Homo sapiens: one gene and its partner. The protein of the gene in region 2 purifies or fractionates together with the protein of the main gene of each other region. This does not show direct contact. Each region holds a gene or a part of one and is shown on either strand. Other genes may lie near its edges.

Region 1 (14,544 bases), on a different chromosome or scaffold from region 2:
ACTTCTGGCTTCCTAACCTTGAGTACTTTAGAGAAGAGGAAGAAAGCTAGGACTACTGTGTCCAAAGGTGTTTTCAGAATGCTCTAATTTGTCTGAAGATACTGTGTTTCATTTCAGACAAGAGTTCAAGAAAAAGAATTCAGACTGTGGCTTCTTTAGGGCCTGGCATGGGAAGATCAGACTGATTAGCAAATGCAACTAATCTAAACATTTTATGGGGCCAGCACTTTCCTTCCCTACCTCTGCCAGTGGAGTACAGACAACTACAAATTAATTACAATATACATCACCAAAAAGAAACATACTCCCATTCTAGAGATGGGAACATTGAGGCTCAGATGAACACAGGCTGCAGGGGATTACAGGGGCTATTTTTCCAATCGCTGCCTGTCAGGCAAGCCTTGGGCCGAGAGCCAGGCTCAGACCAGGAACAAGGAAACAGCAAGTCTTCAGCAGGACCCCAGTGGCTTATGAGAGGGGCTGGGCCCAGTCACCTGACACTCCACCTATTGACTTTGGATGTCTACTCCAAAAATCTTCCTCCTTCCGCTTCTCCCTAGCCAGGGTGTGGAGGTAACAGCACATAGGACAATGGTTGGGTAACCTCAAAAAAGGTTTGCTCATATGTCCCTGCCTCTCAGAAACAGAGAATCAAAGCTCTTTGGAGTGTAGAGACTAGACCCAAAGAAGAATTGAGAGAGCTTTTGGACCATGGCTGACTTTCCATTTCCAGGGCCTTTTTCTTTCTTTTTTTTTTTTTAAATATTTTTTTTATTTATTTATTTTTGAGACAGACTCTCGCTCCCTCGTCCAGGCTGGAGTGCAGTGGCACAATCTTGGCTCACTGTAACCTCCACCTCCAGGGTTCAAGCAGTCCTCCTACCTCAGCCACCTGAGTAGCTGGGATTACAGGAGCACGCCAGCATGCGCGGTTAACTTTTGTATTTTTAGTAGAGTATTTTTCACAATGTTGGCCAGGCTGGTCTCGAACTCCTGGCCTCAAGTGATCGCCTCACTTGGCCTCCTGAAGTGCTGGGATTACAGGTGTGGGCCACCACACCCAGCCTCCAGGGCCTTTTATGTTCCACTTCACTCCCCGCTCCCCACGGCAGGCTCCTCAGGGCTGGACACAGGCAATCTCAGGGGGCTCTTACCACAGTTTCTACCTTCACTCTTTCACCAGCCAAAATGAGAAAGGGTAGCAACAACCTCCCCACTCTGGGAGCCCCAGAAGAAATGTTGTTTTCACTTTCTGACTGAGAGGCAGCTGAGCTAGGAAAACAGTGAAGAATGGGACATCAGGGCAGTGACACAGGGAGGCAGGTGGTCAAGGAGAAGGCAGGGCCTCAGTGTGTTCATAGAGGAAAGTGAAAAGATTTGAGCATTGCATGCACACGTTTGGCCAGTGAGTCACCTCTCCAACACCAACTGAAGACTAGAGCTGCTAATCTGACAGCGGCCTTCCTTCCCTCTTCACGTCCCTGCACGCTACCACCCAGCTTGCCATCCTTTGACTTCCCTGATTAATGTTGTTCTTAGAGTTGACACAATGCTGCCCATTTGTACATGCCATATGCCCTGAGCTCTTTAGGAAGGACTCTAGGAAGCCCCTAGAGAATCACCAATAGTCAGGGTCTTTCTAATGAACTCTTCCCTCTCCCACCTGCCCCTTAATAGGGAGACTCACCTGGGAAAAGGTTTAGGCCTTTGAACATAAATCTGGGCTCAGAAACTCCCAGAAAACATGCCTAAATGCAGCCAACCGGAACATTCAAGTTCCAGCTCCCCTAGTGGGATTCCAAGTAGTGGCTTCACAAGGAAGCATGTTGCCAGCCAGCAGCATTGCCAGCTGGGTAACAAGGGCAGTGGTCCCCACCCAATGCTCTTCTCCCCCAGCCCAAAAGGAAGAACTGAAACAGGAAGAATAAACGCTGTGCTCCTACCACTGAGTGACAGCTAGGGTCAGCAAACGCCATACCACTATCTGCTAATGGGAACAGGTAGCATGAATAATTCCAAACAGCCAGTATCCTCTAAAAAGGGGGGGAGAGTTTATTTAGCTTTGGCAAATTCAGTCACAATTTTATTCTTCAGTGGTTGATTCTAAAATGACTCTGTATTTTAGGCTAGATGAGGAATGCTGGATTGCAGGGCTGGCTGGCCTGGGATTAAACATTGACTCCAGTCAGGGGTTAAACATTGACTCAGGTGAAGATCTGTACATAGGAGCAGAGAGTTGGCAGTAAAGAGCATTTCCTCTGTCCCTCTTATCTCATTTTTATGGCAAAAGCCACACTCAAAGGAACCATCCATGTGGAGGGATGCCCGCTGAGCAGTGGAGAGTGAAGAAGGGCTATCTAGCTTCCCTTTCTCTGTTGGTGATTGTGTCAACCCATGGTTGTGGAGCATCAAGCTAAAGACAGCCTGAAGGGTTGGATTTGTGTGAGCCTGTGGGCTTGGTCATCTGCAATATTCTCTGGCTAAACCAAGGGTGTAAACGGACGTCCCTTGCTGTCTGTAGAAATATCATCCAAAAAATTCATCCTGACAGCAAAAGTTTTGGGAAGTGGAGGAAAATGCTTTCTAGAAAACCTTGGTTCTAGACCCATCTGTGTGATGACCTCCTGTGCAAACTGGAGCAAGTCATTTCACTTTTCTGTTCTTGGTCCTTCATCATTCAGTGGAGAATCACTCTAGTTACGCCATCATGTTCTGGTACATGCTCCTAGTAGTCTCCAAAACTGTCTTAGCAGACAGTGCCAGACACGTATGCATGTACACACACACACTTGCCTTTTGCTGTCCCGTTTATTTGCTGCTGAATCATAAGCGCCTATTAGATGCTAGTCACTGAACATATTATAGCTAATCTTTTTTTAGATTTTTATTTTGGGGAGATAGGGTCTTGTTCTGTCACCCAGGCCAGAGTGCAATGGTGCAATCATAGCTCATTTCAGACTGCAACTCCTGGATTCAAGCAATCCTCCCACCTCAGCCTCCCAAGTAGCTGGGACTACAGGGGTGTGCCACCACCCTGGCTAATTTTTTTGTTTTTGTAGAGACTGGGTCTTGCTATGTGGCCCAGGCTAGTCTCCAACTCCTGACCCCAAGTGATCCTCCCACCTTGGCCTCCCAAAGTGCTGGGACTAGAGGTGTGAACCACTGAACCTGGCCTATACTTAATCTTTATAACATACCTATACAGTAAGTATAATTTTCCCCAGAGACATTAAATAATTTGTTCAAGGTTCCCTGGCTGGCAGGTGGTAAGGCTTGGATGTGAACCCAGGGCGTCGAGGTCCAGAGCCCCTGCTCTTTTCCCAAGGCTACACAGGCTCTCTATGCTTGCTACCTCCTGGCTTGTGTTGTTCCTTGACAGTATTGCATGTGAGTGATGACTTCTCAATTGGACTACTTGCCCTTGTGGAACAGGGGTGCACTCTCCTGCATGTCTCAAATCTCCCTGGACCTTGAGCTTGTCATGGTTGGTAGGCCGAGAAATAACCACCATCCCTCTTCCCCAAGGTTTGTCTATGTCTCAATCTCTGGAGCCCAGAAGTGTGACCTTATTTGGAAAAGAGTCTTTGTAGATGTGATGAAGTTCAGGATCTTGAGATGAGGACATCATCTTGGATTAGCTGGGTGGGCCCTAAATACCATCCATATAACAGAGAAACAGAGAGTTATTTGAGACATACACAGAAGCCAATGTGACTATGAAGGCAGAGGTTGGAGTGACACAGCTACGTGCCAAAGAACACCAAAGAATGTCAGCAGCAACCAGAAGCTAGAAGAGGCAAGCAACGGATTATCGTCTAGAGCCTGGAGGGTGGCCCTGCTGGCACCTTGATTTCAGGCTTCTGGTCTCCAGAACAGAAAGAGCATACATTTCTGTTTTCTTAAGCCACTAAAGTTGTGTTAATTTGTTATAGCAGCTGTCAGAAACTAATACGGTGCTCAACCAAAACACAGAATCCTAGAACTGAAAGAGCCTTGGGAACAATTTGGCACTGTCCTCTGATGGAACAAACAATCCTGCAGACCTACAGGATGAAGTGATCTGGCAAAGGTCACTCGGCAATTAGAGGCAGAATCAGGAACAAAACAAAGGTGTTCCACAGTGACTTATGCTGAGTCCCAGAGTCAGGAAAGTCCAGTGAGAAGCTGTTCTTCTGCTGGTATATTTTCTTGTATGATTACTTTAAAAGAAGCAGGGAGGGTTGAGCAGATGAAGTGTTGTAAGTTTGGAAAGTATAATCACTGCTGTTATCATCATTATTATTGATTTGGGCAATGGACTCTCTTGGCCTGTCCCTCCTCCCCCAGGGCTGAGAAATAGTACTATTTTAGGGCCACTGGGTTCCAGATGGGGAAACCACAGTGCGAGAGGGGAAGCAAGTGAGTCCAATCACACCACCGGCGTGTGGCTGAGCCCAGAATAGGACGTAGGATTTTTGACTCCCTGCCTCTTCCCAGGGCTCTACTTCTCATTTTCCCCTTTCTGTAAACTGGATCAGTAGGATCAGTGGGCTCCAGGTATGTGGGGTGTGTGTGTGTGTATGTGTATGTGTGTGTGTCTGACATGGGTCAGCTAAGACAGTTTTGGAGACTATTGAAAACATGCAGCAGGACATGATCTAGTAAATTACCCACCATCATGAAATAGCAAAGCAGGGAAGGAAATCTGCAACCTGTCCTCCACGCCCACCAAGGCAGCATGAGAAGAAATGATTTAATGAGTGTTCTCCCCTTCCTCCCTGCAAGCCTTTGCTCGTCAAATTTCTGCACTAGTGTTCTGTGAACCTGCCTTGACTTCTACTCCAGCCTGGACAACTGGACACAACTTATTTCTTGCTTTGGGAAGGAAGAAACAAACCCTACAAATATTTTGACTATTGAGTTCAAATGGAGAGAGGTATAAATCGGGAATCCTTTGAAAGGAGCTATAATCTGACAGAACCAGGCTTGTCTCATCTCTGCACCTGCATATCTTGTCTCCCCTCGCATCCTCCTGCTAGACATTAACCCCAGAACTGGGGAGGAGAAAGACTGCTGAAGAGTAAAAAGGAGAGCTTAGTTACTGATGTGTCTTGGTGCCCTCCCACCCACCACCATGGGGCAGAGTCCAGGCTACAGTAGGGGAGAGGGGATTAACAATGATAGAGATATCCAGGTGGGCTTGAAAACTCCAGATTGAGGGGCCCTCACCTTCGCCCATCCTGTAGAGAACTTTGGTGGTCCACAGTCTTGCTGATATCCATTGTACCCCCAATTATATGGGAACACTGGCACACAGGAGGTTACAAGAGTGTTGGGGGAAAATGTGACTCTGCTGCACAGGATCTCCCAAAGGCCTCAGGAGTCTGTGATCAGCCAAACTCACCCTGCACCCACAAGGTGGGCAAGGAGAGGCTGAGGGCCTGGAAGACCCACCCCAGGGAGCTCAGTGTATGGACTAGGAGGGCACAGTGTGGACCACAGAACCCTCAGGATGAGCAGGGACAAAGCCCACTGACCAAGCAGGGGAAGTCACATCTCAGTAGACAAAACTATTTCCTTCTGGAGCCCAAGGCCAGCACAGCATCGTGACAAAGCAAGACCAAAATAATAATGGGCCACCCCTTTTCACTGCCTCAGCAGTAACATTGACCACCCCCTCACCCAAGACCGCTCTCTCCAGACTGGACCCCAGGGGAGAGAAGGGAGACAAAAAGGAAGGGAACTCCATAATGAGGCTAAATTTTAAATCTGGAGTGAAGTGACTGAGAGATCACTGAATTGGGCTGAGCTTGCCTAGAAGTGACTAGGTAACTTGTTTTCTTTTATCAGTCAGATTATGGGTTTAGGGTTTGAAATTAAGCTACATCTGGAAGCCATCATCCTCATCAAACTAACACAGGAACAGAAAACCAAACACCACATGTTCTCACTCATAAATGGGAGCTGAACAATGAGAACACACGGACACAGGGAGGGGAACATTACACATCCGGGCCTGTTGGGGGGGGTGGGGGGAGGGAGAGCATTAGAACTAATAGCTAATGCATGTGGGGCTTAATACCTAGGTGGTGGGTTGACGGGTGCAGGAAACCATCATGGCACACGTTTACCTGTGTCACAAACCTGCACGTTCTGCACATGTAATCCTGGAACCTAAAACAAAATAAAAAAAGAAAATCTAAGTTTGCAAACCACAAAAAAAGAGAGAAATTAAGCTACATAAAGAAATTATGGGGTTTTTTTGCTTGCCATTGAAATCTGTGATTGTGTGTTAACACCCACAAGTGAGCCAGTGGTTAGCTAAAATAAGACCCAGGGCTCTGGCTGCCTTGTGTTTCTCCAGGGCTCTATTTCTCTATTTTTCCTTCCCCTTCTGGTGTTTGGCCTATAGGACTCTGTAGGGAGAGCCTGGGTCAGCCCTGCACAGGTAGGATGGGCAGCATTTCTGTGGGGGTTTGCAGTGAGGGGTCGGGGGGCCATACACGTGTGTGTTGGGGAGTGGGCTTCACTTTTGTCACAGGACTGCCACGATCATTTGGGGAACACCTGGGAGTCCCAACCAGGTCATGTTTTGGCATGGACTAACAGATAGGGAAGGAGGTGCTACTTCAGCTCAGCAGGTCAGCACCGTCCTTGCTATGGAGCCGAGCCCGGGTCCTAACAAGACTCTGAGGTCAGCCATGTTCAGGGGAGCCCAGAAGCAGCGAGTCTTTCATGACTCTGGGGAGTGAAACAGGAAGGGCCACAGTCCTGCCAGTTCCTGGAGCTCTGGGACTGGTAAAAGGGGCTTGGCAGGAGGTGTATAAGGGGCATTTTTGTCCAGGCTAAGTAACCTAGGGAGTCGGAGGGGATTCCAGAGCAACTGGGGATATGAGACCAAGGACTACGACAGCCACTCCTGCCACCTGTGCCCCATCAGATGATGTCAACTTCAAATCAAGCATTGGGCCAGGTATTTTAGAGCTAATACCGGGCTATATCCTCTACCTGTAGATTTGGTATTACCATCCCTCTTTTCCAGATGAAAAGAAATAGGAAGGTGACTTGCCAAAGGTCTTGCAGCTAGAAAGCGACAGAACAGCATCTTCACGCTTGACATTCTGTCCCTCATCCTGAAGCTGCAACGATGGAGGATTCCCAAGTAACAGAGTCTCCCCAAGGTCAAAGGAAACCAAATGGAGCCAGCCAGGAAGGCCAAAATGAAAGGAAAGCAAGGGATCTGTGAGAGTCACATGACCCTGGCTGGCCACGGTGCCTGTGGGAGAGTGGCCCTTTAAGAGCCCAGGTGTGGGTCAAACACTGAGCAGAGTTTCAGTTTTGGCAGCAGCGTCCAGTGCCCTGCCAGTAGCTCCTAGAGAGGCAGGGGTTACCAACTGGCCAGCAGGCTGTGTCCCTGAAGTCAGATCAACGGGAGAGAAGGAAGTGGCTAAAAGTAAGTGTTACTGCTCTGGGATCCCCAGACGGGATGCTATCTGGAAAGGGCTCGGGACGATGGCTCAGGTAACCCCCTCCATTCCCAACTCCCAGTCTCCTAGATAGTGGGGTGACAAGGACAAGGAGGCAGACTGTGTGACTGTGTGTGGCTGGGGAGTAAGCGTGCATATCGCAGTGGGACGAGTAGGGATGCACGTGTGTGGAAGCCCCCCATCCTTTTCTGAGAAATATCAGCAGGTGGGAAGGGACCTCTGTGGTCAGCATATGTAATTCTACTCTTTCAGCTTGGTCTGTGCCTGGATTTCCTAACTCCTCATAGTTGATTAACTGTGTGGCCTTAGACAAGCCACCTAACCTCTCTGATCCTCAGTTTCTTAATCTGTAAAACAAAGATAGAAATAACACCTATCATTCAGGGTCAATGTGGGTTCAAATGAGAAAACACAGGTGAAATAGCTTTGTAACCTCTAGAATGAAATAGGAATTGTTTCATATTTTTCAGTTTAGTTTAATTAATCAAGGATTTATTGAACACCAACAGACCTGGAATTAGATAGTGCGCATAAAGTATGGCACCTAGCAAGTCCTCTTCCATTCTTTGAGGTTTCCCACTTGTGGCTTTCTGGCAAAGGCATGTTCAGCTCCTTTTTTCTGGGCTTCCAAGAACCTCTGAAATCCTTTGCAATTCCACCTCGCTTTGCTCTAGCAGATTCCTGCCATGGGAGACATAAATGTGTGTCATCGCATCATCCTGCCCTTCCTAGAGGTAGAAAAAAAGAGGTCCTCACGGGATCACTGAGTGAGGTGGAGCTGAGCCCCACAGGCAGCATGATCAACTCCTGCTGTTCCTCCTGGCTCTGCAGCCAGCAGATCTCAGACATGGGCTTCCCCTCCCTTTGCCCATCCTGACAGCAGCCCAAGCCAGCAGTGGGACCGTCCGGCACAAGGGCAGCAGCGGGTCAAGCTCCATCCCTGACCCCCAGTTCCCTTTGTGCAATTGCCACAGTGCCTGGGGCCATTGAAGCTGCTCCTATTTTGTGCCATCACTTTCCCCCTTCACTAGGGGAATTATAGATCCTTTAACATCTGGAGAGGAGATGCCAATTTCAGGGGTTTAGGTAGAAGGCAGCTGTCTGGTGCCTGGACATAGGTCTTCCCAGAGCCAGATCTGGAATTCTCTCTCCATCCTTGTCCCGCCCCTGGATGTGCTAAAGTAGCAGAAAGAACACTGAGCCAGGAGTCAGGAAAGCAACTCTCTCTGCTTATCTCCTAGTGCCGCTAGACCTCTGTGGCTTTAGGTGATAAAAAATGGGGTCACACAGGCTTCCATTTAGTAAACCCACTTGCCCTGGGCTTTCACACCTTCGTCTCATTCTCCCTTGATACCAACGAGGAGGTAGGCAGGGTTGGTTTTGTGATGTCATTCCCTAGTTGAGGAAACCAAGACACCGTGAGTCTATGTGAGTGGTGTGAAGTCACCAGCAAGTTTGAACGATGAGGTTTTGGTACAGCCATTTTGATATGGTCATGAGGACATTTTGATGTCACCTAAAAAGCAAACTATCCAACTTAAAAAAAAATACCTATGCATTGTGCTCAGCAGAGACCTTCATCTATGTCTTGCCCTCTCTCTGGAGGGGCTGGGGCTGGAGTCCCAATGTCACTGGCATCGACACAGTATGGTGGAGTGGAAAGAGGCTTTGGCGTCAACATGCCTGGTTATACCCATGGTTATGTAACATATCCTACACATGGTAGGTGCTAAATAAATAGCAGCTAATATTTTCCAGGAAGAAATTTCTCTGTTGGCACCTACCTCTGGGTCCAGGTGTCTCTTCATTTTTTAATTTTTTATTTTTTTGAGATGGAATCTTGCCCTGTCACCCAGGCTGGAATGCAGTGGCGTGATCTTGGCTTACTGCAACCTCCACCTCCTGGGTTCCAGCGATTCTCCTACCTCAGCCTCCTGAGTAGCTGGGATTACAGACCCATGCCACCACACCCAGCTAACTTTTGCACTTTTAGTACAGATGGGGTTTTACCATGTTGGCCAGGCTGGTCTTGAACTCCTGACCTCATGATCCACCCACCTCAGCCTCCCAAGGTGCTGGGATTACAGGCGTGAGCCACTACGCCCGGCCCCAGGTGTCTCCTTATAAGAACTGCCTTTTCCGTGAAAGGCAGAGAGGAAAGAACTGAACAAATTCTCAGTTCGCTAAGATTGAATATCCTGCTTCTTCCTCTCTCCACTGCTTCCTCTCAATAGGAAGACCCTCTGAGGTAAAGCAGAGTGGCTAAGGGCCTATGCTCTTGATCTAGAATCCCATCTAAGTCACTTACCAACTGTGCAACCTTGGGCAAATGTCTCACCTCTCTGTGCCTCAATTATCTCACTCATGAAATGGGGTTGCCCATTTTGTCCCATCTCCTATGGTGGCTGTAAAAATGGAACACATTAACACATGTAAAGCACCTGGAAAGGACTCAGCGTACGTTCTTCTAGCCTAGCCCATAGTGCTTGTCTCCTCTCTTATCCACATGAGTCCAACCTAAGTAGCTCACTCTCCATCTCTCTATCTTCAAAGGATGTCCAGCAAGCAGACTTCTACTCTCATACCAAGTCCAGGGGACCTTTCTTCCTCTGAAAAAGAGGGAAACCTGAGATTAGATGGACAAAGGTTTGGACTCCACACCATGAGAGATGAAGTGCAGTCACTTTAACTGAACAGGAGCTAGTTAAATACATTTTATAAAAAGAAAAACTATCCTTCAGCACAGCTTACACTCCTGCCCCAATCCACAATTGTGGGGACATATGTTACACATATGTTGGGATACTAACTTAGTAAACTGAAAATGATCTAGCACATCCTAGCCTCAGCAGTGAAAAAACAACTGCTAGTTTAAGGACCAGAAAACGTGCCCTCATGCATGATATAATATCATATATATAAAACCCAATAAAGCAGGTCCCTTTGCTCATTTAAAGAGTGATAATGGGGTAGTGACCTCAAATTAGGATTCTGCTGTGGGTCTTGGGGTCGAGAATCCCTATAACCCTTAGATTTCCAACCTGTGTCATGAGGATAACAACATCTATCTCTTGGGTTGTTGTGCTGATGGATGAAGTCTTACAAGAAAAGAACCTAGCAAAGCATTTGGCACGTAGCAGGTGCCCAACATTATGTTCTTTTTCTTCCTTCCTTAAGCAAATCCTTTAAATCCAGCCCCAGCCACCCTGGGCTGGGGAGGTCTCCCGAGATTTGAATCCCCAGGTTTGGAAGAAAGTCTCTGGTTTTGAGAGGAAGGGGTCTGTAATGATTCTGAAAGCTCGAGGTCCTTTCAAATGCTACTAGAGAAATTGTGCTTCAAGTTTTAGCTTTGGGCAAAGAAGAGCTCCTGTTCCTGAAAGCAGGGGTATCCTCTCCTGCCAATCATCCCATCTAGGACTGGACTGTGTGCATCCCGCTGATGTTGCCATCTGCCCGACCTGCCTGTGCATGCCTGATGCTCTCATCCCTGGCTTGAGACCATGCAGAGGGTAATGGGTGCACACACATGTCCCCTCTCTACACAAACATGCACAGCCACCCAAACATGTCACAAAATGAGAAGTCTGGGACAGAGGTCAGGGTGGTCTTCACCTTGGAGAAGCTGGCATCTGACTCTCTGCAACCCAGGCCAAGTCCAGAGGAGGGCTGCATCCCCCAGCTCAGCTTGTGGGAAGACCACTCCTGTCTCACGCAAATATGAGGCAGCTTGCTTATCTAGAGGTGAGGACAGGAACAAGAAGCAAGGACAGCTGCTGCTGGTGTGGGTTCTTAAAAGCAGGCAGCATTTTGTCCTCCCACCTGTGACTGCACCCACCCTGTGCCAGCACAAGTAGAAAATGGTAGATCTCCCAGGACTTTGCAGCCAGCCCATCCCAACTGTTTCTGAGACTTCCTGGCCTCCTGAAAGCTGCTCCCACCTGGGAGCATCTCCCATGGCAGCTTGCAGTGCCCACGCAGGTGATGACATCCCAGCTAGTGTCCCCTGATTGCTTCCATGTTGGAGCTGACTGGTATTTGGCCAAGGCCCCACTCCAGGCATTAATCATTGACCTGGTAAGAAAGGTCTGGGGCAATTAACCGGACTCAAGAGAGCCTCAACGTTGCCATCTGACACCCATATTTGTTCCCACTCCCTCCCTTTATTCTTCCAAAGAACTGCAGAAACAAAATACCTTTATATTCACAAGGAAATAAAAGGTTCCTTGCTGGGAAATTCCCCTGCAACAAAGAAATAACCAAGATAAACAACTCTATTGCCTTTGGCTCAAGCTGGTGAAGGGAGTCTGGGAGCAGGAGCAGGGGCCAGGGTGGTGAGGGAGGTCTGGGAGATAACGCCCAGCTTCCTCCTGCTTACAGCGTCCTTATCTTTATGGGCACTCATTACTGCCCAAACTTACGATCATTTAACACTCTCTTTGTCAAGACAACTCCAAAGTTTAAAGTCTGTCAAAGTCTGGGAAAGTGGAGACTTCTGTCTCCTCCTCTAGGCTGTAGTTGGGGTCTTGATGACAGCTGCTGTCAGGCAGACCCCTGGGACCCTCAACTCTCCTCAGCCCTGGGCTGTGTCCACGGTGGAGACAAAGTCCACACAGGCTGCTCCGTCTGAGTGGTCTCATCTTCGATTCTTCATCTTTGTCTGCCAGGCCTTACCAGGCAGGATTACAAAGACCCTAACACCTAAGCTTTTAACCCCAATTCCATAACCAAGTTGCTGGGAAAACGTAAGCCTATCATTCAGCATCTCAAGACCTCAATGTTTTATCCATAAAATGGTTGTGATTATACCCGTCTGTCTTATTTCAAGGGAACATATAAAGCTCAAATGAAATAATGTAAATGGTAGTGCTTTCATAAGCAACAGGGTCTCTACAAATAACACAAATAAGCATAAGGTAAAAGCATGCTCTTGTATTTGGGGTGCGATACAGTAGTGGAGAGGTTAAGCACATGGACTTTGCAGTCAGACAAAGGTGGGCCCAAATCTTCCCCGACCCCCATTCTGTGTACCCCCACACATTTAACCCCATGTGCCCTTGAGGAAAGTACTTAACCTTGAAGCCTTCATTTCCTCCCATGTGAATGTGGATAAGGATACTAACCTCACAGGGCTGATATCAAGTCTGTATGAGATAGTACACATAAATTATTCAACACAGTGCCTGAGACAGAATAAGGGAGCAATCAATGGGGTTAGGACCATCATCATTACATTTACAGCCTTAATAATCATGACACCTCCTCTGTGGGTCTCAGTTTCCTCATCTGAACACACTGTGAAATATGTCAGCCCGCTTCACCTCCCAGGAATGTAGGGAGGGCAGCTGAAACAGAGAGATGGGGGCCACGTATTGGTAGGAACCAATCACCCAGCAAGCCATTCCTGAGATCTTACGGTGTGCCTGGGACTGTGTCTCATGGGCAGGGAAACAGAGCAAATGACACAATATCTCTATCCCAAAGGAGCTTGCAGCTTAGTTGAGAAGACAAAAGCTACTTCTAGCTATTAAGGATATACAAGTGTTGAAGGATGATAAGACTTTGAATTGTTATGGAAAAAGTGGAGGCACTGATTCATTCAACAGGATTTATGTCAGTTGCTGGAGATACAAAGCCAAATAGATGTCACAGAAACTCTAAGGTCAACTAGTCTTGGAAGACAAGGGGCGCTTCATCTCCTTGTGATTATTGTTTTTCAGCATTGCACAGGAGAAGTCGGCCTGAGTGGTGCGGCGCTCGGGACCCACCAGCAATGCTGCTCTTCGTGCTCACCTGCCTGCTGGCGGTCTTCCCAGGTGTGTCTGCCAGGCCCCAACTCTCCAAGCTCCACCCCTTCAGCCTGCCCGACTCCAGGGTTCACCTCCCTGGGGACACTAAAATCAGACTCATCCCCAGGGATGTCCCTCTCAAAGTTGGCACTTCCTTGAGGAAGAGTCATACAGAGAAGACACTGAAAGGCCACATCTGTGAGCATTGGAAGTCAGGGACAGGAATGGCACTTCCTAATCTCAAGGCCAGGGGTCTGTGAAAGATCTTCTTTGAGAATAACAAAGACCTTAACTTCAACCAAGCATCTCTATGACCCGCTGTGAAATCTGAGGGAAGTCACTTATCCTTTCTGGCTCTCAATATTTTTATCTGGGGGAAAAAAAAGAAAAGAAAATCATCTACAAAGTGCTTTTAGAAATATAAGGAAATAACACATGGCAAGTGCAAACATGTAACACCTTACGAAAGTGGTGTTATTGTTTGAAAAAACAATGGATGGCTGGATGCTGGCTCACAGCTGTAATGCCAGCACTTTGGGAGGCCAAGGAGGGTGGATTGCTTGAGGTCAGTAGCTCAAGACCAGCCTGGCCAACATGGAGAAACCTTGTCTCTACTAAATAGAAACCAAAATTAGCTAGCATGCACCTGTAGTCCCAACTACTTGGGAGGCTGAGGCATGAGAATCGCTTGAACCTGGGAAGCGGAGGTTGCAGTGAGCCGAGATCGTGCCACTGCACACCAGCCTGGGCGACAGAGAGAGACTTTGTCTCAAAACAATAAAAATATATAAAATAAAAAACAAGGGTTATCATAAATTTGTCATTCCCTTGTCCTTGAAATGGTTATCATTAATGAATAACAATTCCAATTTAATCATGATTAAAACAGTCACTTTATTTAATCTCAGCAATTTTCCAGCTGTGATATATGATAAATTATCAACACAGGGCCTACGTGTCAGGTAGAAAACCACATCTACTCATAGTGGGTTATCTGGAACAGGCTTTACCTCCCAAGGGCCTCAGAAAGCCTCTCTCTTCTGTTCCCACAGCCATCTCCACGAAGAGTCCCATATTTGGTCCCGAGGAGGTGAATAGTGTGGAAGGTAACTCAGTGTCCATCACGTGCTACTACCCACCCACCTCTGTCAACCGGCACACCCGGAAGTACTGGTGCCGGCAGGGAGCTAGAGGTGGCTGCATAACCCTCATCTCCTCGGAGGGCTACGTCTCCAGCAAATATGCAGGCAGGGCTAACCTCACCAACTTCCCGGAGAACGGCACATTTGTGG
Region 2 (16,843 bases):
AATCAGCATTAAGCATTTCCGAATGTTCTTTTTGGTTTGCCTAATTTAATAGGGAACTACAAATGAAGGAAAAGCATGAACAGTTCCCACTTAACCTTTCTTCCATGCTGACTCTCTTATGAAGGATACCTGGAGCTCCTGGGGCTCCTAACTCTTACAGTTACCAGGGTCATCAATTTGATGAAATACACAATCACCATCATCATCATCATCATCCCGTGGTCATTCTGACCCTCACATTTGCTTCTCAGACTCTGCCCCACTCACCCCTGCTGCTGCCCTGAGCTTCCTGCTCTGCCCTCGCCAGCTTGGCCTGGCTAGGCCCCCAGAACCTCAAGATGAACAGCTGATGTGAAAGTCAACACTTCCTTTCTACCTTGCCCCCAATCTTCACAACCAATGCCCCCCAAATCCAACAAACCTGCACCTCACATATCAAAGACACAGTCTATTTCCTACTCGAGATGGCCATAAGGTACAGGAGGAAAGCATTTCCTCTGGAGTCAGGCCAGGTTGAAATCCCAATTTCTGTTTTTTTTTGGAGACGGAGTTTTGCTCTTGTCACCCAGGATGGAGTGCAATGGTGCGATCTTGGCTCACTGCAACCTCTGCCTCCCAAGTTCAAGCGATTCTCCTGCCTTATCCTCCTAAGCAGCTGGGATTAGAGGTGTGTGTCAGGATGCCTGGCTAATTTTTGTACTATTAGTAGAGATGGGGTTTCACCATGTTGGCCAGGCTGGTCTCAAACTCCTGACTTCAGGTGATCCACCTGCCTCGGCCTCCCAAAATGCTGGAATTACAGGCGTGAGCCACCGTGCCTTTGCCTCCTAAGTTCAAGCAATTCTCCTGCCTCAGCCTCCCTAGTAGCTGGGATTACAGGCGCATGTCACCACGCCTGGCTAATTTTTGTATTTTTGTAGAGATAGGGTTTTGCCATGTTGACCAGGCTCATCTTGAACTCCTGACCTCAAGTGACTTGCCCACCTTGGCCTCCCAAAGTGCTGGGATTACAGGCATGAGCCACCACACCTGGCCTAAAATCCCATTTCTGCCACTTTCTAGCTGTGTGATCTTCAGAAGTGACTTTACTTCTCTGTGCCCAAGCCCTGTATGGGCTCAGTACTTGCCTAACATTCTGAGACCACTGTATTATCAAATCTTCCCGACAATCCTGCAAGGGCAGGGGTGGTAAATAATCTTTTCACTATTTTCCAGATAAGGAAACTGAGGCTCAGGGAATTGAAGGGCACACAGTTATTTTGTGCCTAAGGACACATAGTTATTAACATGCACTGTTCGAGACCAGCCTGACCCACATGCAGAAACCCCATCTCTACTAAAAATACAAAGTTAGCCAGGTGTGGTGGTGCATGCCTGTAATCCCAGCTACTTGGGAGGCTGAGGCAGGAAAATCGCTTGAACCCTGGGGGGCAGAAGTTCTGGTGAGCTGAGATTGCACCATTGCACTCCAGCCTGGGAAACAAGAGTGAAACTCCATCTCAAAAAAAAAAAAACAAAAAAAACCGCACATAGTTATTAACATACAGGGCTGGGATTCAAATGGTCTGATGTGGAATATCAGGCTACTTGGAGGTTTTGTGAAGTCCTTTTACAGCTTTTCATCATTTTGATTTTAAATATTTCAGTATAGTGGAAACACCTGAACAGGGAGTTCTCCCTCTCCTGTTTGAAACACCAAACAGAATTATCCTCTCAAGGCTGGGATATCCTCTAATGCTGCAAGACCACAGAATCCATTACCTTTTCGTCCCAGGTGGCCATGTCCCTGTTGCCTCTGGATCTGAAAAATAAAAAGACATTTGTCCAGATCTATCATCTTGCTGCCATCTGCCTTGGTATGTGCTCTGTAATCCTTTCTTACAAATTAGTTTTAAGTTAGTTTAGTTTTAACTGTGCCCGAAATTAGTGTAAAGTACAAAGTATATGTAGGAGGGCATACATCCTGGATATAGAGCCAAATGAACTGAAACAGGGACTCAAACAAATACTTATTTGTACACGAAAGTTCATAGGCTTTCACAGCATTATTCTTAAAAGCCAAAAGGTGGAAACGACCCGCTTGTCCATCAATGGATGAATGGATCAACAAAATGGGTCTGTCCACACAATGGAACGTTATTTGGCCATAAAAAGAAATGAAGGGGGCCAGGTGTGGTGGCTCACACTTGTAATCCCAGCACTTTTGGGAGGCCAAGGTGGGTGGATCACCTGAGGTCAGGAGTTTGAGACCAGCCTGGCCAACATGGTGAAAACCCGTCTCTACTAAAAATACAAAAATTAGCTGGGCATGGTGGTGGGGACCTGTAATCCCAGCTACTTCGGAGGCTGAGGCAGGAGAATCGCTTGAACCCAGGAGGCAGAGGTTGCAGTAAGCCGAGATCGTGCCACTGCACTCCAGCCTGGGCAACAGAACAAGACTCTATCTAAAAAAAAAAAAAAAAGGAAAAAAAAAAAGAGAGAGAAATAAAGTATTGATACTTATTACAATGTAGATGAACCTCAAAGATACCATGCTAAGTGAAAAAAGCCAGACATAAAATGTCACATATTGTATGATTCCATTGATATGAAATGTCCGGAACAGGATATGAAATGTCCAGAACAAGCAGATTGGTGGTTGCCAGGGGCTGGGGACAGGGAAGGATGGGGAGTGACTGCTTAATGGATTAGGGGGTTTCCTTTTGGGATGATGCAAATGTTCTGTGCAGCTAACAAGGTATTTTTTAAAAAGCAAAATGATATATTATTAATTTTAATACAAAGAAAAACAGTGAAAATGTTCTGATAGAGGTGAAGGCCGCACACTGTGAAATGTACTTAAATGCCACTGAATTATTCACTTTAAAATGGTTAGCTTTACATTATGTGAATTTCACTCCAATTGAAAAAAGACAGACATTACAGTGTTGGGGTTGCTCTGAAAAACAGTAAAACCTTCTGAACACCCACCACCAGCTATATCAGTGAATGCACCTCTGAGCAGCAGGAGCTGCTAGTGCTGTTGAGTATTCACATATGGACGTGGAAAGACGCCAGCCACAGAGCAAACAGAGGAGTCACATTACGGCAGAGTCTACAGGATGACCCCATCTAAGTCAAAAGAAATACAGATGCTTTTTTTTGGTCCGTAAGGATCACTCTTCGCAGTGGTTATCTTTGGAAGAAAAGGGAGTGATCTGGGTGTGGGGCTTTCCTTCTCTGCTTCTGGGAGGCGTGAACTTTTACAATGAGTAGGTGTTACTTTAAAACGTTATTTTTAACATAGGTGATCTATGCATGTAGTAAAAAGTTTAAATTATACAAAAAGATATTCTATGACAAGTCAGTCTCCCCTCTACCCATTATCCTTCCCAGAAGTGGTCGCTCTGACCCTCTGACCAGTTTCCTACGTCGCCTTCTGGAGTATTCTATGCCCTCACAAGCACATGAGTAGATACTCTCCCCCAACCTTTTATTTTATTTTTTTTGTAAACAAATGTGAACCCACATACTGCTGTGAACCTTATTTCCCTTCAGGGTGTGGTAGGCAAAATAATGCTCCCCTTCAAAGATGCACATACCCTAATCCTTGAACTTGTATATTACTTTACATAGCAAAAAGGATTTTGCAGACATGATTAAGTTGCAGCTCTCAAGATGGAGGGAATGATTTTGGATTATCCTAGTGGACCCAATGTCATCAGAGGGGTCTTTGATAAGTGGAGGCAGGAGAAAGAAGAGATTGTGAGGACAGAAGCAGAGGCTGGAGTCAGAAAGATCTGAAGATTCAGTGCTTTAAAGATGGAGGATGGGGCCTCAATCCAAGGCATGTGGGCCCCTCTAGAAGTTGGGAAGGCAAGCAAACAGATTCTCCCCCAGAGCCTGCAGCAGCAACACAGCCCTGCCCATACCTTGACTCGAGCCCACTGAGACCGATTGTGGACTTTTGACTTCCAGAACTGTAGCATAATAAATGTGTGTTATCTTAAGCTGCCAAGCTTGTGGCCATTTGTTACAGCAGCCACAGAAGACTAACACAGTATCTCAGAGGTGGTTCTATGCCAGTGTGTCCTGTATGAAGTGCACGCCTTGTCATGGCTGCACATGAGTCCCCTGTAGGAATGTGTTTAATCCTACTAGTGATGGACATTTACGGTTGTTTCCAATCTCCTCCCACCCCAGCGCTTCCATAAATAACCCTGCACACCCTTTTTTTTTTGTTGTTGTTGTTTTGTTTTGTTTTGGAGTTGGGGTCTCACTCTGTCACCCTGGCTAGAATGCAGTGGTGCGATCAGAGCTCACTGCAGCCTCAAGATCCTGGACTCAAGCGATCCTCCCACCTCAACCTCCCGAGTAGCTGGGACTATAGGCACACACTACCAAGTCCAGCTAATTTTTGTAGAAAGGGGGGTCTCACTATGTTATCCAGGCTGGTCTCAAACTCCTGAGTTCAAGTGATCCTCCTGCCTCAGCCTCCCATGGTGTTAGTATAATAGGCATGAGCCATTGCACCTGATCCCTCTATGTAACTTCTATAATTTTTTTTTTCCCCTGAGACAGAGTCTCGTTCTGTTGCCTAGGCTGGAATGCAGTGGTATGATCTCGGCTCACTGCAACCTCTGTCTCCCAGGTTCAAGCGATTCTCCTGCTTCAGCCTCCTGAGTAGCTGGGATTATAAGTGCCCACCACCACGCCCAGCTAAAATTTTTTTTTGTATTTTTAGTAGAGACGGGGTTTTGCCACGTTAGCCAGGCTGGTCTCAGACTCCTGACCTCAAGTGATCCGTTGCCTCAGCCTCCTAAAGTGCTGGAATTACAGGCATGAGCCACCGTGCCTGGCCTAATTCTAAAAAATTATTTTGAAATAAACTTTCAAGAAAACTTTAAAGAGGTTCTTTCTCTCCCCACAGTTACATGCTGAGGGTGCAAGGGACTCTTAGACTTTCTCGCTGGTTGACTGGCAGAGCAACTTCTGGACCCAGCAGAGTTCAGCTTTGCATGTCCCTATACCAGCCCCCTGGGATTCTCAACCTGCTCTCACGAGAGGGGCTCAAGTGGAACCATCACCACAAGAGGAGGTGAAGGGAAAAATTAAGGTGCCCTGGAGATTTCCTACCTTTGCAAGACAGGAGCTAGAACTAGCACACACGCAGAGGAACACTCAGCTTCAGCAATTCAAGCAACAGAAACTTTAAAACTACCATGCCCTTCTCCATTAAACTAGCCAAAACAAATAAAAAGGATAAAAACCAATGCTTGCAGAGCTGCAGAGAAATGTGCACACATTCCTGGGGATGATTTTTCTAAATAGCTACCTGGTCACAAGAGGTAAGTGCTTCCAAAATGATCCCACCCTTGACTTGCACACCTTGGTTAGGAAACTGTATCTCCAAGAAGCCATTTGATAGCCAAAAACATGCACAATATGGACAATGATATTTATAGCTAAGTTGAATAGTATGGCTAAAACCTGGAAGTGGCCCTCAACCCCCAAGCCCTACTTTAGGGAAAAGCTGAGGAAGGCAGTGGGCTCTTGGGAGGGATAATTCTGAAGTCTATGTAGAAACGGGAGAAAAAATGCTGTCAAGCAGTGAGAAGAAAAATAGGCTGATGGCTGACACATTGCCTGCAACTGTACAAAACTATCTGAGCCATTCCTAGGTGCCAGGCACTGATTTCCCAGGTTCTGGGAAATCCAAGGTGAAGAGGAAAGGGCAAGATCACGATCCTGGTAGACTGACATGTTACCTGGGGAGACAAACAAGGAAGCAAGGAAATATACAAGACAGACCACACCCCCCCCCCCCAGCTAAGCACTGGGAAGCCAGCCAGCCAGAGTAAGGGGCCAGGGAGCAGGCGGGGTCTCCTTAAGTGGGGTGGTCAGGGACAACTCGACATTTATGGTGTGCCCTGAATTACAAGGGAGTATGTCACAGATTGCAGAGAAGAGCATTCCCGGGAAAAGGAAGAACACGTGTGCTGTGCACAGCCCCTGAGAGAGCGGAGTACTTAGGAGGTGGCGGCTGGGGACAGCAGTGGACAGGACAGTGGCCAGAGAGAAAAATTGAGAATAATCACACAGGGCCTGATCATGGAGAGGGCTTGGCAGGCGATGCTGGGGATTTGGATGGAAGTGAGGGGTCCAGCGTGATGAGGCGGCAAGAGATGCTGGCGGCCTGGTCTCAGGGTGGAAGTAGGGGGTGGAGGGGTGGCCGGATTCAGGATATGCTTTGGGTTAGAACTTGTCGCTAGCCTAGACTGTGGGGAAGGGACGAGGAGCGGGGTGGTGGATGACAGCTCCCAGGGCCCAAGCCCCAATGACTAGCAAAGGATCAAGTCTGGGGACAAGAACACTCTGGCTTTCTCCTTCTTGCTAAACCTGTGTCGGGGAGGGCAGGGGCCACAGAGCAGCTCTGGACCTTGTGCAAGCCTCAGCCCAGAGATTTTCAAAACCCTGCCCTTATCAGCCTTTCCCTCTGGGGAGTCAGCCAGAGAAGTTGCCACCCCCTCACCTTGGTCTTACTCAAGCAGCTCCTAGTTGCTGGTGGGGCTGTCCGGAAATCCTGCAGATCTCAGATAGCCCTGAACAACCTGAAGTTAAAGGTGCCCAGGACAGAGAAGTACTCTCAGAGGGGCAGGACGGAGGGTGGAGGAAGCACTGGAACCATGAACTTTTGGTAGTAACCTGGTGCCAGGGGCTAAGCCTGTACACCAAGCATCTTATATCATCTTCTCAGCAATCCTGCGAGGTAGGTACATGCTTAACCTCATGGGACAGATGCGGAAACTGAGGCAGAGACAGGCCAAGTCACGAAGCTGAGCCTGCAAGATCCCCCACACCCAGCACTGGTAAAAGTGGTGGGGGCAATGTTGGAGGGAGTTCCACTGAGGAACTGCTCTCCCCTCTCTGTCTTGGCGTTTACCCTGGCCCCAATCACTCTTGTTCCTCAGCATCTCTGTCTCCAACAGGTGGGTGCTTTTAAAGTGTTTCTAGGGAAGAGTTTGCTTCCCCGGGGCTCCTCCTTCAGGGATGGCTGGGCCTGCTCATTGCAGCCTTCTCCCGGGACATCCAGCACTGCCTCTGCCCCTGCTTCTCTCCTACAATCTCCCGGGAGGGCAGCGGGGCAGGGACGATGCATCCGAGGACTTAGGGGACACAGACCTGGTTGTGAGTTCTGGCTCTGCCTCCTTTGGCTGTGTGACCCAAGGCAAGGGGCTTGGCCTCTCTGCGTCTTGGTTTCTTCACCTGTTAAGAGGGAGACGACGATGGTCACCTGTGGCTGCTGCGCGGAGTGTGAAGAACTGAAGGCACCTGGCCCAGGGCGGCGCGCACCACCAACTCTCCGGGATCGGGGGGTCACTAGGGCCAGCGTCTCCCGCGTTCCCCTCCCCTGGACTCCAGTCCCTGCCGAGGGGAAGCACTGCCCGCCCGCGCCGGGACACGCCAGAGCCGAGGGCAACCGAGGGCTGGGGTCCTGCTGGGGCTCCACGGCGAGGCCTGGACAGCGGAGATGCGGGGGGGGGTCCCCTCTTCTCGGAAGGATCGGGCACTGGGGGTCTTGTAGAAAGGGCTGCACGCCAAACGGGGTACGCCCCCCGCCCGGCCCGAGCACTTACCCGGCGCCCCACCCGCCCGCGGTCACCGCTGCGACTGGGAGCCTCAGAGCAGGTCCGGCCCAGCCCGTCCCGCCCCGTACCGTACCAGGCCCCGCCCCCGCCCGGGCCGCCCCCGCCCCCGTCCCCGCCCCCACAGCCCGCAGACCCCCAACGGTCGGCGGGCTTCTAGGCCTCGGCCCGGGTCTTAGTCCCCTTGTCCCTGCCTGTGGTCAGTCCACCCGTTCGTCCCTACCTCCCTCACCCCGGCTGCCTCCCGCCCCGCAGGGTGGGCCTGTCCTGGGCCTCCCGCAGTTACAAAGGTCCCGCCCGTGGGAGCGAATCGCGGATCACAAAAATCCTGCCCCGGGCCAGCCTAAGGGAAGGGTGGGCGGGGGAACCACTTCCTTCCTCCGCCGGCTGGAGCGGGGCGAATCCACCCCGCCAACCCCTTTCGGGGAGCTTCTGCTCCATCCCACCGTCTCCGGGCCACCCCTGCCTCTGGGTCTCCTGATTCCTTGGCCTCGTCCCCTGCACAGTTTCTGCCATGCAGGGGTGGAGGGTGGGCAGCACGCTCTGACGAATGAGCAACCTCTCAGCCCTCAGAACTTCCCTTGGTCGAGGGCTCTGAGGCTGCTCATGGGATGGTACTGGCAAGAGGGAGCCTTACCGCGTGCAGCCCCTGCCTGTCCTGGGCCGCCTTGCTCCGGGCCAACTCGTACGGCCCCGCAGGCGCAGGCCCAGCTCTGAAGTCCCTCCCCTGTGGGCCCTCCCAGCACCCTGTTCACACAGTCGAATCAGTTCTGTTAGCTTCTGTCTTCCCCCAGAGACCATTTGTCCCAAACATCCTGCAAAGCCGTCTTCTGCACACCTCTCCCTTCCGGTTGAGTCGGGGCTGTGGGGAGAGGCTCACCTCCTTGGGGTTGTGTTAGTTTCCTCATGCCGCTGTTAACAGATCACCACAAACCTAGTGGCTTAACACAAATGTGTTATCTTACAGCCCTGGAGGCCAGAAGTCTCAGATGGGTCCTACAGGGCCAGAATCAAGGTGTGGGTGGGGCTGTGCCTTCTGGAGGCGCCAGGGTAGTGTGTTCCTTGCTTTTCCCGGCTGGAGAGGTGCCTGTGATCCTTGGCTGTCTCAATCCGACCTCTGCCTCCATGGTCACAGCGTCTTCTCCCTTCTAAGGAGCCCTGTGATTATATGGGATCCACCTGGATAATCCAGGCTAATCTCTCCAGCTCAGGATCCTTCACATAGCCACATGTGCAAAGTCCCCTTTGCCACTTAAGGCAACATACAGGTTTGGAGGGGTTAGGATGTGGATATCTTGGTAGGGGGGTGCATTCTTCTGCCTCCCATAGGGGTATTGTCTGCTTCAACTGACTCGGCTTTCCCCAATTCTGCTGGGCAGCTGGCTTTCTTTTCTTTTTTCTTTTTTTTGGAACGGAGTCTCACTGTCGTCCAGCCTGGAGTGCAGTGGTGCGATCTTGGCTTACTGCAACCTCCGCCTCCTGGGTTCAAGCAATTCTCCTGCCTCAAGCCTCCCGAGTAGCTATGATTACAGGCCAGCATCACCATGCCTGACTAATTTTTGTATTTTTAGTAGAGACGGGGTTTTACCATGTGGGTCAGACTGGTCTCGAACTCCTGACCTCAAGTGATCTGCCTGCCTTGGCCTCCGAAGGTGCTGGGATTACAGGTGTGAGCCACTCCACCCGGCAACAGTCTCACTCTGTGGCCCAGGCTGGGGTGCAATGGCATGATCTTGGCTCAGTGCAACCTCTGCCTCCTGAGTTCAAGCAATTCTCCTGCCTCAGCTTCCTGAGTAGCTGGGATTACAGGTGCCTGCCACCACGCCTGGCTAATTTTTGTTTTTTTAGTAGAGACAGGGTTTCTCCATGCTGGTCAGGCTGGTCTCGAACTTCTGACCTCAAGTGATCCGCCTGCCTCGGCCTCCCAAAGTGCTGGGATTACAGGCGTGAAACACCATGCCTGGACTGCAGCAGGCTTTCTTTTTTCTTTTTGAGGTGGAGTCGCGCTCTGTCACCCAGGCTGGAGTGCAGTGGCGCGACCTCGGCTCACTGCAAGCTCCGCCTCCCAGGTTCATGCCATTCTCCTGCCCCAGCCTCCTGAGTAGCTGGGACTACAGGCGCCCGCCACCACGCTCGGTTAAATGTTTTGTATTTTTAGTAGAGACGGGGTTTCACCGTGTTAACCAGGATGGTCTCGATCTCCTGACCTCGTGCTCCGTCCTCCTCGGCCTCCCAAAGTGCTGGGATTACAGGCGTGAGCCACCGCGTCTGGCCAGAAGGCTTTCTTAAAAACATTTTGGTCAGATCTCCTGACTTCTCAGTCATGTATTATTACAACAGCCCCATGCCAGTTTCTAAGGCATAGTCTGGTCCATTTTCAACTTCAACTTCCTTATATTTTATTAAAAATTCTCCTCCTCCCCCAGGGCCAGCTAGACAGAGTGGAGAGGATGTGGGGACTGCTCCCAACAGCCCCTCCTCTGTGTTCACTCCCCTCTGGTTGAGGAAGGGAAAAGGGAACAAGTACCCCGTCCCCTAGTTGCACACCTGGAAGTTGCAGCCCTCTGTCTTAACATCTGGTCTTGCCTGTAGTTAGACCCTTAGTGCAGACAGGTGGTGACCTCAACAGACCCTGCTAAGGCAAGGCAAGGCTCAAACCCTGGCCTGGCTTGATCCCCTGGCTACCTTCCCCCATCCCTTCCCCTACAGAGGCATCGCTCAGTCTTCTCCCTGGGTACTTGCCTCTGCTCCACGGTGCAGTGGTCCAGTCTGCAGCCCCCAACCTTACTGATGGCCTGGAACCTGGGGCCACCAGCAGGGACCTATGTCCATACTTTTTGGGAACCAGGATCCCAAAGGAACACTTCAGCAAGTCTGGAGAATTTGGTGATATTCTCAGCATTGTCGTGTTTACTGAAATACTGCTACTGCTCAGGCATTTCAGTGGACAGGAAAAGATCTCAAATGTGTTACACTGTTATCCCCAGGCACAGGATTTGACCTGCAGTAGGTACTTTACATTCCTATTGCATAAATTAATGAGTATTGAGCATAATAAGATTGGGGTGCCCTCCATCATTGCTACTATTCAACATTTCACTGATGAGCTCAGTCAATGCAATAAAACAAGAAAAAAGAAATACAAAGACTGAAAAGAGAAAGACTATTATTTGCAATCGATGTGATTGTCTACCTAGAAAATCCAAAAGACCTAACAGACTAACACGTGACCACCTACTGTGTGGTAGGCCCTTTCAAGGTACTAAGTATAAGATGAAGGAACAGCCTTTGTTCTTAGTGAGCTCCCATTTTAGTTGGGAAAGTGAGGCCAACAATACTTAAAGGAGAAGGCCGGGCATGGTGGCTCACACCTGTAGTCTGAGCACTTTGGGAGGCTGAGGCGGGAGGACTGCTTGAGCCCAGGAGTTCAAGATGAGCCTTGGTGACAGAACAGTACCCCATTTCTATAAAAAATGTTTTAAAAAATTAGCTGGGCATGGTGGTGTGCCCCTGTAGTCCCAGCTACTCAGGAGGCTGAGGTGGGAGAATCCCTTGAGCCCAGGAGTTCGAGGCTGCAGTGAGCTACGATTGCACCACAGCACTCCAGCCTGGGTGACAGAGCAAGACCCTGTCTCTTAAAAAACAAAAACAAAAACAAAAACAAAACAACTTAGGGAAGAGTAAGCTGAGGTCCACAGAAAGAATCCAGGAGGTCTATTAACTTGGGTGGGAAAAAAATTCTTTATTTTCATTAACCTCTAACTGAAACGTATTATTACTTTGTTTGTTTGTTTAGAGACAGGGTCTCACTTTGTTGCTCAGGCTGGAATGCAGTGGCTCGAGCACAGCTCACTGCAGCCTCAAACTCCCAGGCTCAAGTGATACCCCTGTCTCAGCCTCCCAAGTAGCTGGGACTACAGGCACATGCTACTGTACCCAGCTAATTTATTATTTATTTATTTTTATTTTTTGTAGAGATGGGGTCTTGCTTTGTTTCCCAGGCTGGTCTCAAACTCCTGGCTTCAAGCAATCCTCCGGCCTCAGCCTCCCCAAATTTTTTTTTTTAAATTGGGATAATAGACATGAGCCACTGGCCTTTAACTGAAATTTAATATTTCCTTCAATTATGAATGTAGGTAACAAATTACAGTTGCATTACAAACGTCACTAACTGGCCAGGCGCGGTGGCTCATGCCTGTAATCCCAGCACTTTGGGAGGCTGAGGCCGGTGGATCACCTGAGGTCAGGAGTTTAAGACCAGCCTGGCCAACATGGTGAAACCCTGTCTCTACTAAAAAATACAAAATTAGCCGGGTGTGGTAGCGCATGCCTGTAATCCCAGCTACTTGGGAAGCTGAGGCAGAAGAATCGCTTGAACCCGGGAGGTGGAGGTTGCAGTGAACTGAGATCACGCCACTGCACTCCAGCCTGGGCAACAAGAGTGAAACTCCATCTCAAAAGAAAAAAAAAACGGAAAAAAAAACCCACTAACTTTGTCATCAGTCAAAATCACAGATGTTTTTAAACCACAGTATAGTTATTGGAGATATCTCAAAATATAACTTATATGTATCATTACTTCAAAATTATAGTAGTTACTGAGCCAGCTGTTCTTATAGTTTAATGTGTACTATAAGAACTCCATCTATTTATTACAAGTAAAAAAAAATTCAAAACTTCAATGCAAGATAGCTGGCATCATTTGTAATACGATGCATTCGTTCTGTTTTATGCATTGAAAAACATTACTCTTGGAAGAGGTCCAGAAGCTTCCCCAGATGTCAAAGGCCCCAGATTACAAAAAGATTAGGAACTGCGTTAGATGAAGGACTTGTTCCGGTTTGGGCAATACCAAAGCAGTTCTCTTACACAAGGCAGTCCTTGCCCCACCCCCGGTCCTCCGCATTTCTTACCAAGCAGTGAGCCCAGCTTGCTTGAATTTTCTGGGTGTCCTGCCTTTTGATGTTCATGGAGCGTGTACTTACTTATTTAGGGATGGGGTCTTGCTCTGTCACCCAGGCTGGAGTGCAGTGGTGCAATCACTACCCACTTCGGCCTTGACCACCTGGACTCAAACTATCCTCCCATCTTAGCCTCCTGGGTACCTGGGACCACAGGCATGCATCACCACACCTGGCTAATTTTTATTTTTTTGTGGAGACAGGGTCTCACTATGTTGCCTAGGCTAGTCTCAAGCTCCTAGGCTCAAGGGATCCTCCCGCCTTGGTCTCTCAAAGTGCTGGGATTCTAGGCATGAGCCACCGCGCCTGGCCACATGGAGCATTTTGAGGAAGATCTGAGTACAGCCCTGGGGGACTGGGCCATCCCTGGGCTCCAGGACAGCTGGGGCCGGGCCAGGGCAGTGGCCAGCTCTGGCTTTCCCCAGCGGGAAGAGAGAGGGCTGCCTCTGCTGGTTTTGGTTCCTCCAAGGCAGTTATCAACGGCTACAGTTGACCACTTCCCTTCCTAGGGCAAAAGCCCTGTCCTGGCTCTGGTAGAGTGTGAGAAAATGGACAGAGGGAGAGAAAAGTAGATGAGTTCTCAGCCAGAGACAGGGTGGGGGTTCTGCTGGGATTTCTTAGAGTGACATCTGTTGTTTAGGCCCAGAGGTGCCTTTCCCAGCAGATAAGATTTATCTACAGCAGTGACGGCCACACGACGGGATCTGCACAAGGCCTGGGCACCGATGCCTGATGACGCAGCTATGTGAAAAGGGCACGGTCACCTCCAACTCTCTTCTCTGGCACTCGGCTCAGCCTTCTGCCTCACAGTTCAGAGTCACACAGAAGAGTAGGAAGAACACAGGCATTGCATCAAAGAGGCCTGGGTGTAAATCCTGCCTCAATGGTTTCCCTTGCCCGCTGGGTGATCTGTCATCAATTCAGCAAAGAGTTTCTGAGTGCCAACTATGTGCTAGGCAGAGAACACAGAGTTGAGTAAGACAGGCAGGTCCTGCCTGCCCTCATTAAACTTAGTCTATATAGGGAGGCACACAAATACTAAACGACAAATTACAAAGTGATAAGCATTGAAAAGGGGGCTGGGTGCGGGGGCTCACGCCTGCAATCCCAGCACTTTGGGAGGTTGAAGCAGGCAGATCACTTGAGGCCAGGAGTTCAAAACCAGCCTGGGAAACATAGTGAGACTCTGTCTCTACATACATATATGTATATACACACACACACATATATATACACACACACACACTTATATATAAACATTTCTATAATTATAATTGTATAATTATAATTGTATAATTACATATATTTTGTTTATTTTGTGTACACACACACACACACACACACACACACACATGACCTAGCCAGGTGTGGTGGTGCATGCCTGTATTCCCAGCTACTCAGGAGGCTGAGGCCAGAGGATTGCTTGAGTCTGGGAGGTCAAGGCTGCAGTGAGATGTGATCACGCCACTGCACTCCAGCCTGGGTGACAGAGTGGGACCCTGTCTTGAAAACAATGAAGTATTGCAAAGGAATGAGCTGGGGGTTGTGGTGGAGATAACAAAAGGTGGAGACTGAGATGCAGATCCACTGAGGCAGGACAGCAGGGAAGGGGTCTCTGAGGAGGTGACATTTAAACGGACACTGAAAGCTGAAGTAGAAGCAGCTATGAAGAGAGAGGGACAACCTTTTCAGAAGAGAGAACAGCATGTGCGAAGGGCCTGAGGTGGGAAGAGCTTGGCCTTATGAGGCCAAAAGGAGGCCAAGATTGTGGATGCACAGAGGAGGGTGAAGAGAGTCATAAGAAGTAAGGCTGGGGAGGAGGCCGGAGGCCCACAGAAGGGGCTGGAGTCCATGTGGAGCACAGGAAGCCATGGGAGTTCTAAGCAGGGGAGGGATCGTTTGATTTTTTTTTTTTTTTTTGAGATGGAGTTTCATTCTTGTCGCCCAGGCTGGAGTGCAATGGCGCGATCTCAGCTCACTGCAACCTCTGCCTCCCAGGTTCAAGCGATTCTCCTGCCTCAGCCTCCTGAGTAGCTGGGATTACAGGAGCCCGCCACCATGCTCAGCTAATTTTTTTTTTTTTCAGTTGAGATGGGGTTTTGTCATGTTGCCCAGGCAGGTCTCGAACTCCTGACCTCAGGTGATCTGCCCACCTTGACCTCCCAAAATGCTGGGATTACAGGTGTGAGCCACTGTGCCCGGCCAGGACCATTTGATTTTTTACAAAAAATGTAGTAAAATACACATAACATAAACGTTACCATTTTACCCATTATCAAGCATACGGCTGGTGGCATTTAGTACATTCACAATGTTGTGCAAGCTGCACTGCTATCTAGTTCCAGAACCTTTTCATTATCTCAAAAGGAAACACTGTCAAAGGCCCCGTACATAGTGGCATGCACCTGGAATCCCAATCACTTTGGAGGCTGAGGCAGGAGGATTGCTTGAGCCCAGGAGGTGGAGACCAGCCTGGGCAACATAGCAAGACCCCATCTCTAAGAAAAAAAAAAAGGAAACCCTGTACCCATGAAGCAGTTCCTCCCATTCCTGTCTCCCTCCAGCCCTAAGAACCTGCTAGTCTACTTTCTGTCTCCATGGATTTGCCTGCTTTAAATGGAATATCATCATATATGGTCTTTTGCGTCTGGTGTCATTCATTGAGCACAATGTTTTCAAGCGTCATCCATGTTGTAGCATGGTCCTTCATTCCTTTTATGGCCAAAGAATATTCCACTATATGGGTCTACCACATGTTGCTTATCCTTCCATCCACTGATATGGTTTGATTAAAAAAGATAACTCTGGTTTATATAATAAACCAGATAAATCTGGGATTAGATTATAGGGAAGATAAAAATGGAAGTGTAGAGGAGAGATAAGGATGGCTTGGACAAGTCGGTTGGGAGTAGGGAAGGAAAAAGGGGCATGATTCCAGATCCATGTGGGAGACAGAAAAGACAGGGGGGAACTGTGGGTGGCATGGACATGTAGGGGAGAGGAAGGGGCAGAGCACCGGAGTGCACTGTGGTGCCCTCCATCAAGCAGAGAAGCCTGGGAGGGGGCCAGGTGGAGGATGTCCCCATTTTTGATAATGTTTTATTTGAATTGTCAAAGTGGAGGTGTCACCTGGGCAGTAGGATCTGAGTCAGGAATTTGGCAGAGAGGCTTGGGCGTCATCAGTGCACAACTGGTATTGACAACAAGGCCTGGGCTGTGATCCCCTTCCAGAGTGTTGACAAAGGGGTTCAGGACCAAGCTAGGGCCTGGGCAGGTGAGGAAGAGGCTGCAAAGGAGACAGAAAGAGTAGCCAAGAGGTAGAAGGAAAAACCAAGGGTGTGTGGGATCCTGGAAACCAAAAGAGGAGCGTTTTGAGGAAGAGGAAGGAATAAGTGGTGTCAGATGGAAACTGATAGGGTGAACAGCGCAGAGAGGGAGAGAGTGGAAAGGAGATACAAAAGCACTTGAAGGGAGCAGAGAAATGGGAGGACAGCTGGAGGGGCCCACACTGGAGTCCCCCCAAGACTAGCATAGCACCTGGAATGCAAGAACACCCATTGATTCAGTTCTTACTATATGCCACTCACAGCGCGAAGCATCTTTTTTTTTTTTTTTTTTTGAGATGGAGTCTTGCTATGTCGCCCAGGCTGCAGTGCGGTGGCACGATCTCAGCTCACTGCAACCTCCGTCTCCCAGGTTCAAGCGATTCTCCTGCCTCAGCCCTGCCTAGTACCTGGGATTACAGGTGCACACCACCACGCCTGGCTAATTTTTGTATTTTTAGTAGAGATGGGGTTTCACCATATTGGCTAGACTGGTCTCGAACTCCTGACCTCGTGATCTGCCCACCTCGGCCTCCCAAAGTGCTGGGATTACAGGCATAAGCCACTGTGTCTGGCCGTTAAGCATCTTGTCTCCATTTCACAGCTAAGGCTGAGACTCAGAGAATTATTCACAAGGCCACACAGCTGGTAAGAGGCAGAGCTAGAACATGAACCTGGCTCCCAATACAGGATTCTCAGTGGGCTCCTTCTCTGCCCGCAGAGACAGAGGGGGTGCTGCTACTGTTCGTGGGTCAAGTTCTCCAGTCCTTTAGGATCTTTCTTGTCTGCTTTGTATTATTATTTTTTTGTTGAGTCAGGGTCTCACTATGTTGCCCAGGCTGGTCTTGAACTCCTAGCTTCAAGCGATCCTCCCGTCTTGGCCTCCTAAAGTGTTGGGATTACAGGCGTGAGCCTCTATGCCCAGCCTTTCCTG

Evidence for each region.
Region 1: the proteins of HVCN1 (region 2) and PIGR purify together in Homo sapiens (affinity purification with mass spectrometry; 2 studies listed by BioGRID and IntAct, with this or other methods). This does not show direct contact.

The regions. Positions count from the first base shown.
Region 1 is NC_000001.11:206,939,224-206,953,767, reverse strand, and holds the start of PIGR (polymeric immunoglobulin receptor precursor), read left to right. Parts: upstream 1-7,301; 5' UTR 7,302-7,432; exon of another isoform or gene 7,433-7,500; intron 7,501-13,183; 5' UTR 13,184-13,236; coding exon 13,237-13,279; intron 13,280-14,304; coding exon 14,305-14,544.
Region 2 is NC_000012.12:110,681,464-110,698,306, forward strand, and holds the start of HVCN1 (voltage-gated hydrogen channel 1), read right to left. Parts: upstream 7,653-16,843; 5' UTR 7,617-7,652; exon of another isoform or gene 7,333-7,616; intron 7,246-7,332; 5' UTR 7,162-7,245; intron 1,802-7,161; 5' UTR 1,783-1,801; coding exon 1,762-1,782; intron 1-1,761.